2 linked regions of the Homo sapiens genome follow. The protein of the gene in region 1 purifies or fractionates together with the protein of each later gene. This does not show direct contact. Each region holds a gene or a part of one and is shown in the gene's direction. Other genes may lie near its edges.

Region 1 (3,962 bases):
TTTTAAGTGCGGGCCCTCTGTGACTTCACAGATCGCACGCCCGTGAAGCCAGCCCTGCCCAGAGTCCCTTTTCATTCACTGGGTCCTCCTCCCTCGCGTCACAGTCCTGGGGTGCGGGGATGCTGGCGTTGCTGTCACACTGCCGAGCTTTAGGTCAAACTCTCAGCACCGCGACTAGTTACCCTGAAATCACTGGGGCCCGGTATTACAAAACAGAACACACTTTCCTCTTTCTTCCCCTTTATTTAAAAGAGATGATAGGCTTTACGAGTTATTTTTAATAGAAATTTTTTACAATGAAAAGAATTCGGGCGTACTGTTTGCAAACTGCAGCAGACAGGTCTGAGCGCCCCAGAAGGCGGCCGGCCCCAGCCTGGGAGCCTGCGGGGACCACTCCCTGCTGCCCTGGCGCATGTCCTCCAGGGACACGGGCCACCGTTGCCCCTGGAAACCCTGGGGGACAGGCTCCCTCCTGGGCGACCTTTCCACGTTTCTTTCGCCCCCCCCGGAGCGGCACCTCCATACCTCCCGGGCCGCTAGTCCCCCGAAGCAGGCCCCAGCCCCGGCGCAAGCTGCCTCCTCCGCAGTCCCCGCCCGCCGCCAGCCCGGCCACCGCCGGACGGCGCCCTTCCCAGCCCCGCGCCCCGCTCCCCAGCCCTCCTCGCGCGTCCGAGCCCACGTCGCTTGCCCCGGCTGCCAAGTCTTCCAGACGGCCGGGCCCTCCCGGCACAGCGCGGGAACCCCGGCCCCCGGCCCCACGGGACGAGGGCTACAGGGCCCGGCCGGCGAGCCAGGGCACCCCGGGGTCTCCAGGCGGCCCACCGCCCTCACCCCCCACCGGCGTCCCCAAGCCCCCAGACCGTCCCCGCCGCGCCCTCAGCGCCGCCGCCCCCGGGCCGGCCGAGGCTCCGCGGCGAGTCCCGCCCAGCGCCCCGGAGGCGCCAGCCCCACGGCCCGAGCGTGCGCAGCGCCCCCCGCGGCCGCGCCAAGCGCAGGCGACGGCACAGGAAAGGAGGCCGCGGCGCGCCCGGCCCGGCCCCCTCCCCAGCCCGCCCCCGGGGCCGCTGGCGGTGTCCGCGCCTCCGCGCCCGCCCCTGATTTCCTCCGGGCGGCGGCGGCGGCGGCGGCGCCTCGTGCGCGCGGTTATTTATTTCCGGGCCCCAGAGCGCTTATAATGGAGCCGCTGTCAGCAGAACCTTCTGCCGCCGCCGCCGCCGCCGCCGTCCCTCCTCTTTTTTTTCCCGGCAGATCTTTGTTGTGTGGGAGGGCAGCAGGGATGGACTTGAGCTTGCGGATCCCCTGCTAGAGCAGCCGCGCTCGGAGAAGGCGCCGCAGCCGCGAGGAGGAGCCGCCGCCGCCGCGCCCGAGGCCCCGCCGCCCGCGGCCTCTGTCGGCCCGCGCCCCGCTCGCCCCGTCGCCCCGTCGCCCCTCGCCTCCCCGCAGAGTCCCCTCGCGGCAGCAGATGTGTGTGGGGTCAGCCCACGGCGGGGACTATGGTGAAATTCCCGGCGCTCACGCACTACTGGCCCCTGATCCGGTTCTTGGTGCCCCTGGGCATCACCAACATAGCCATCGACTTCGGGGAGCAGGTAAGCCCCGGCCCCGCGCCCCACGCCCGCTCGCCCTGCCTTGGCCTTACACGCCCGGACACGGGGGCGGAGGGGAGTCACCTGCTCCGAGTCCCTCTTTATCCTGAAACATTTGGTCGGGTGTGCAGCTTGTCAAGGGTGACTTTTCCAGCACCCCATTCCCTCCCTCCCTCCCCTCAATTATTCAGCAGACTTTTCCAGCCCTCTCTGGAAAATGTTAAAAAGACTGGATGGTGTGAAGCTTCACCTATGGAAGGGTTTTTAGTGCACGGCAGTATTATGTAATTTGCGATTATGTAAACCTCAGCTCTAATTAAAATGTAGTTTCTAGTAGCTTAAGTGCTGGGTTTTTATTTACCCATGGCTGGTGGTAATGGTGACGGTGGGGAGATTCTGTTTTATAATGCGTCCAAGTTGATTTCCCAGGTACTTCCATTTTTAAACATTTGTTTCGTAGTCCAGGTAAGGATTAGGGGTATCCCGAATGTGTCCTGATAAGCCGGTCTTGACCATTTATTTCTAGTTTGGGATTTCTTTTTTTTCCTTTTCCTTTTCTTTTTTTTTCTTTCTTTCTTTCTTTCTTTTTTTTTTTTCATGGACCACTAAAGAAGGGGAGCACATTTTTGTTTGGGGTCGCCTTCTCGTCCTTGTTTCTTTTCACGTTTTCTCCATGTGGCGTCATTGAAAATCTAGCGCTGCAAGCTCTCCAGCGATGGGGCATTGGCACCCTGCACTTTGCATGTGGGGACCGTTTTGGCAGGGCCACCAGCGGGATGCAGCTGCGTTCTAAGGCCGGGGAGAGGATTTGGTGATGGGGAGGCAGTGACATGCCACCCTGATGGGCAGGTGTCCCAAGTGGCCAGAGCGTGTGACGAGCGGCACTCCTGTATTGTGGTACTGTCTTTCTTCTTTCCTTTTAAGTCAAGAGACTTAAACGGATATTTATCTAGAATATGCACCTATTTTGATGCAGTACTCATTGTAAAAGTAAAACAGCTTTCAGGAGGCAGTTACAAATCGGAGATTTGTGTGACTCCTTCGTTTGACGAATATCTGTTTGGATTTGTCTTTCTGTGCTCAAAACTTTTGAATAATTGCAACTCTGTAAGCTCTCTAATATGTAGCCCACATTGTAAGCTACTTTTTACTTTGAATTTTGTTGGTGATAGGTGTTCACAATATGGCATATTCTCTAGAGACCTTTGTTTACCGCGCCAGCCAATGTCCTTTGATAAAATCTTGTCTCTTCCGTTGCCACTGTGCCCTGCCAGTGCCTCACAAGGGTACCCCAAGGGCTTCTTCCCTGCTCCACCCTGTACCCGCCCACCTTCCCTTCTTTCTATAGTAACTGGTGACTTTGAACACTTCCTACAATCCGTAGAAAAGCTTTTAGACACGAATTTACTACATTGCCCATTTTAGATGAGTCAAATGCTGTATATTCACTCGAGCCTTTCCTATTTTAAGGCTTACCTTCTTGGAGCTGCCCCAAAGGTTGTCAGAAAGCCCAGGCTGCTCATCTGAACTGGTGTGTGTTTGTGTGCATGTAAGAATCATATCGAGATAACTAGTGGAAATAAGAGTAGTCTGTGTCATCATTAAACCACCTGACGCATACCACAATATTGCCTCCCTTTTGCCTTGATTTAATGAAAGGCTGACATAACTAGGTTTGATTTTAGTATAAGAAAAAGAATCTCCTGAAGTCACAAAAGGGAGGTTAAACATAAGAGACAACTATCCAGATGGTTTATCCTCGCAGGTCTAATAATTCTAACTCATCCTTAAAACATTGCTAACCTGATTATCATGGCTGATGTAAGCAAAGTACTTAATGGAGTTGTGTTTTTGCAGAGAAGCAAAATGTTATCAACAAGTGTCATTTGAGGTCCTTTTCCCAAAAACACCAGAGTATGAGGTTATAGGCTGCCTGGAGGGCGGAGATATTTTATCACAGAGTTAAGGGTGGAGAAATGGGGAGAAGAAATTGATAGGTTTTCCAAACCTTGCTTTGCCTTCTGGTGTCAGATGATAATTGTTTTTGCAAAATGCTGCAGGGTGAGAGAGAGTGAGACTGACTTACTCTTTTCAGCATTAAACTGGAGGGAAAGAATTACAGTGGGAGCTGAAGAGTGACCTGGTATGTGTGGGTGATGAATAGAAGAACACTTTACCCCAATTCTTCTGAAGCACAGTAAAGAGGAGGAGAAATGAACCAGTTTGCAAAAGTGGGTCTACGTTAGCTGAAAATATGCAGCCCTTGAGTTTATATGGAGTTCTAGACAGATGGACACATGTAGGTACTGCCGCTGAGTGGGCAGGTGTATTACACCTTGCTGGGAGTGAATGATGGCTTATTTGTCAGCGATTTAC
Region 2 (3,500 bases), on another chromosome or scaffold:
GCTGAGGGTAGATACCTGTAAAATCATAGAGTATCTCTTCAAGGTTAAATAAGCTATGAATAACATCAGTTACTTTCTTGGGAGTAGGATTGGATAGCTGGGAACAAGGGTGGTAGATAAGCTTAGTTATCACTGCATAGCCTTTTGTGCCTTTTTGAATTTAGTCCTATGTCCATGAATTACCTTTTCAAAAATAATTTTGGAAAAAGTCCATAGGAGTGAAAGAGGTCTAGGGAGATACTAGAGAGAGAAGAGCAGAGCCCAGGACTGAGCTCTGAGTACCTCTCAACCTTTAGAAAGTAGATAGGATTGGAGGATCTAGCATAGAAGAAGGTGTCTTTACTTGATTCCTCAAAAGTCAAGTAAAAAAGAGGAAAGAGATGATCAGAGAGCATAGAGGCAGTTGGACATGATAAAGGAAGCAGCTTTAGTCAGGTCATGTTGCCATAACCATAATGGGGTGGGTTGAAGATTAAATGAGAGCTGAGGAAATGGAATATAGACATTTGAAGAAGCTTGATTATGAGAGGGGACAGAGAATGGGGGCAGAAGCTGGAGAGATATTGGGGTTAAGGGAGGTTTTTGTTTTTGTTTTAGAATTGGAGATAGTAAAGCATATTTGTATGCTGGGGGCAATTCCTCTCCACTGGAGAGGAAAATAAGGATACAGGAGAGGGAAAGAGGAGATGATCCAGTACAAAAACCTGAGGAATAAAATTATAATCTATGTGAATGAATGAATGAGATGTCCCTGAAAATTAAGACAGAGGATAAGATTCAGAGGAGTAGTCAAACATTACTTTTAGTAAGAAAGAAATGAGAAACGTTGGATTGTTTTGCATTTTTGCAAGTCTTATTAATGTCTGGCTTATAGAAGGCACATGGGCTCTTTTGCCTGCTTCTGTATCCAGTCTCTTTCAATAGCACATGTTCTATACCCTTTGGAAGATTCCACTGTAAACTTATGAGAGAAGAAGAAGAGTACCTCTTAGAATACATCTTAGTATTGTTAGGAAGATAGTTTGACCTTAGGGAGCCTCTGCCTTGGACCATATTTTGAGACTCTCTGCTCTAGCCTAAAGCATATTAGGAAGCTGTATTAGACTGCCTTTTTTTTTTTTTTAAATCTTGAATCAGCATCTTGCCCTGGAGTGCAGTGGCGTGATCATGGCTCACTGCATCTTCAACCTCCTACACTTAAGCAATCCTCCCACCTTAGCTACCCAAGTAGCTGGGACTACAGGTGCATGCCACCACACCTGGTTAAATTTTTAAATTTTTTGTAGAGACAGTCTCACTATGTTGCCCAGGTTGGTTTCAAATTCCTGAGCTCAAGCAATCCTCCTGCCTTGGCCTCCTAAAGTGCTAGGAGTACAGCATGAGCCACTGCATCCAGCGTAGACTGCTTTGTATATTTAAATTATGTGTCGTACTTAGAAGATGAGGTGATTAAATCCTTGATAAAAATCATGATTAAGGTTTTTGGTGTGATTATATCTTGAGTTGCCTTTGAATAATAGAAGCTTAGTAGGAGAAAGAAGTTTGTTTACTATATTTGAGTTAATCTCTTTAGCTCAAGCTAAAATAGTATATCAAATATTCCTCTGAGTAATTTAAGTGTAGATGACCTCAGTCCACATTCTTACCCTTGCTTTTTAGGCAATAATGTACCAGACCCTGTTTTAAAGTTACCTAGGAAATATCTTAAAACCGTCTTCTGTACTTTTTTCACTTACTGAATGATAAATACGTATTTTCTAGTATGTGCTTTTGGATGCCTTTAAAAGTTGATAATATCTGAAAAAGATGAATGGGCAATATTTTCCAATGGAAAAAGTAAGGCTTTGGAATCAGGAAGATGTATGTTTGAATCTCAGCTGGCAAATAGGAAGAATAACTATTTCTGGGACAAATGTGAAATTTGAATGTGGTTATAAATTAAAAGTGACTAGCTTAATGTCTGGAACATAATAGACATTCAGTAAGTTTAAATTTCCCTTTCTCTTTTCCACCACAATTTAGAAAGGCTTTAACAAATTTACAAGATGCTGCTTGAGGTCCAGCTACCTGGGAGGCTGAGGCGGGAGGATCTCTTGAGTTCAGGAGTTCAAGGCCAGCCCAGGCAACATAGCAAAGACCCTGTGTTTAAAAAAAAATTAGAACCTTTGTCACTCCATTAAGGGCAGAGGGCATGGGATAAAAGTTACTATAGATATATAAAGGGGCAATAGGAGTTTAAATATTGATAATTTTTCATGTTTTAATTAGTTCAGATATGTTATTTGTATCCTTGTATATTAAGACTTAATGTAATTAACAGTGTATTATCAGTATTGATGACAGTTTTTAACATGACTACCTCCTTTCATAATAAATGTACTCTTAGTTATGGATGTATCCTTATATTGAAAGAATTAATAATATACTTTACATTTACGTGTTTACCCAGAATTTTCACATAATTTCAATTAATCATTATAATTTGTAGGTTAAGTAACATTCAAAGGAGTTTTCCTTTAATTTTTTAATATTTCTCTTTTTTTTTCCCCCAGACAGTTCAGTTTGTTCAGGGAATTTTTGTTGAAAAATATGACCCAACGATAGAAGATTCCTACAGAAAGGTAAAATGTGAAACTTGTACACACATGCTTACAAGTAGTTCCTTATGATGTTAAAATTTGATCTGTAGATTTGCTTTTTGAAAATAGTTTTGAGAAATAATACAAATATTGTGCATCTGTTTTTAAAAGTTTCATCAAGACAGAACATTTCTTAACAGAATACTACTTTGATATTCAGAGCTCTATGTTCTGTTACTGATTAGTGACTTGTTCCTTAATGTGGACATTTTCCTGGTGGGGAATGTTGCCACATATGAAAAAATTGCATATAAATAGTAGGTGTGTTTTCAACTTACTCTTTTGTTACCAACAATTAAGACCACCTTTATGCTTGAAGTTATCCAGTGACTGAACATTTTTATTTTTGTTTAGTTTTATAAGTTTAAAGATATCTTTAGACTACCAAAAAATTAGAGTCTGTGTAATACTATAATTGGGTTATATGCCATACATTTGTCAAAACCCATAGAATGTACCATGCCAAAAGAAAATCCTAATGTAAACTGTGGACTCTTGGTGATAACGATGTGTTCATGTGGGTTCATCAGTTGTAACAAATGTACCACTCTGGTGCAGGATGTTGATGGTGGGGTGAGGCTATGCATTTGTGGTGGCAAGGAGTATGTGGGAAATCTCTGCACCTTCCCCTCAGTTTTGCTGTGAAACTAAAACTGCTCTAATAAAGTCTATTTAAAAGGGAAAAAAAATTAGGTACTTGGTCTTGACAAAAAATATTCTGTAGAAGACCAGCCAGAGTTGTGGAAAATTTTCAGTATTTTCTATGTCAAATATATTGGGTGGGGTGGAGGTTATAAAAGGCTAGTAGCCAAGAATATTTTTTAAAAAGATTAAACTTTAATAGGAAAGGATTGCTTTTGA

Evidence for each region.
Region 2: the proteins of ANKH (region 1) and RAP1A purify together in Homo sapiens (affinity purification with mass spectrometry; one large-scale study listed by BioGRID and IntAct). This does not show direct contact.

The regions. Positions count from the first base shown.
Region 1 is NC_000005.10:14,868,979-14,872,940, reverse strand, and holds the start of ANKH (mineralization regulator ANKH), read left to right. Parts: upstream 1-1,162; 5' UTR 1,163-1,493; coding exon 1,494-1,589; intron 1,590-3,962. UniProt on the Homo sapiens protein: Transports adenosine triphosphate (ATP) and possibly other nucleoside triphosphates (NTPs) from cytosol to the extracellular space. Mainly regulates their levels locally in peripheral tissues while playing a minor systemic role.
Region 2 is NC_000001.11:111,692,789-111,696,288, forward strand, and holds part of RAP1A (ras-related protein Rap-1A precursor), read left to right. Parts: intron 1-2,552; coding exon 2,553-2,621; intron 2,622-3,500. UniProt on the Homo sapiens protein: Counteracts the mitogenic function of Ras, at least partly because it can interact with Ras GAPs and RAF in a competitive manner. Together with ITGB1BP1, regulates KRIT1 localization to microtubules and membranes.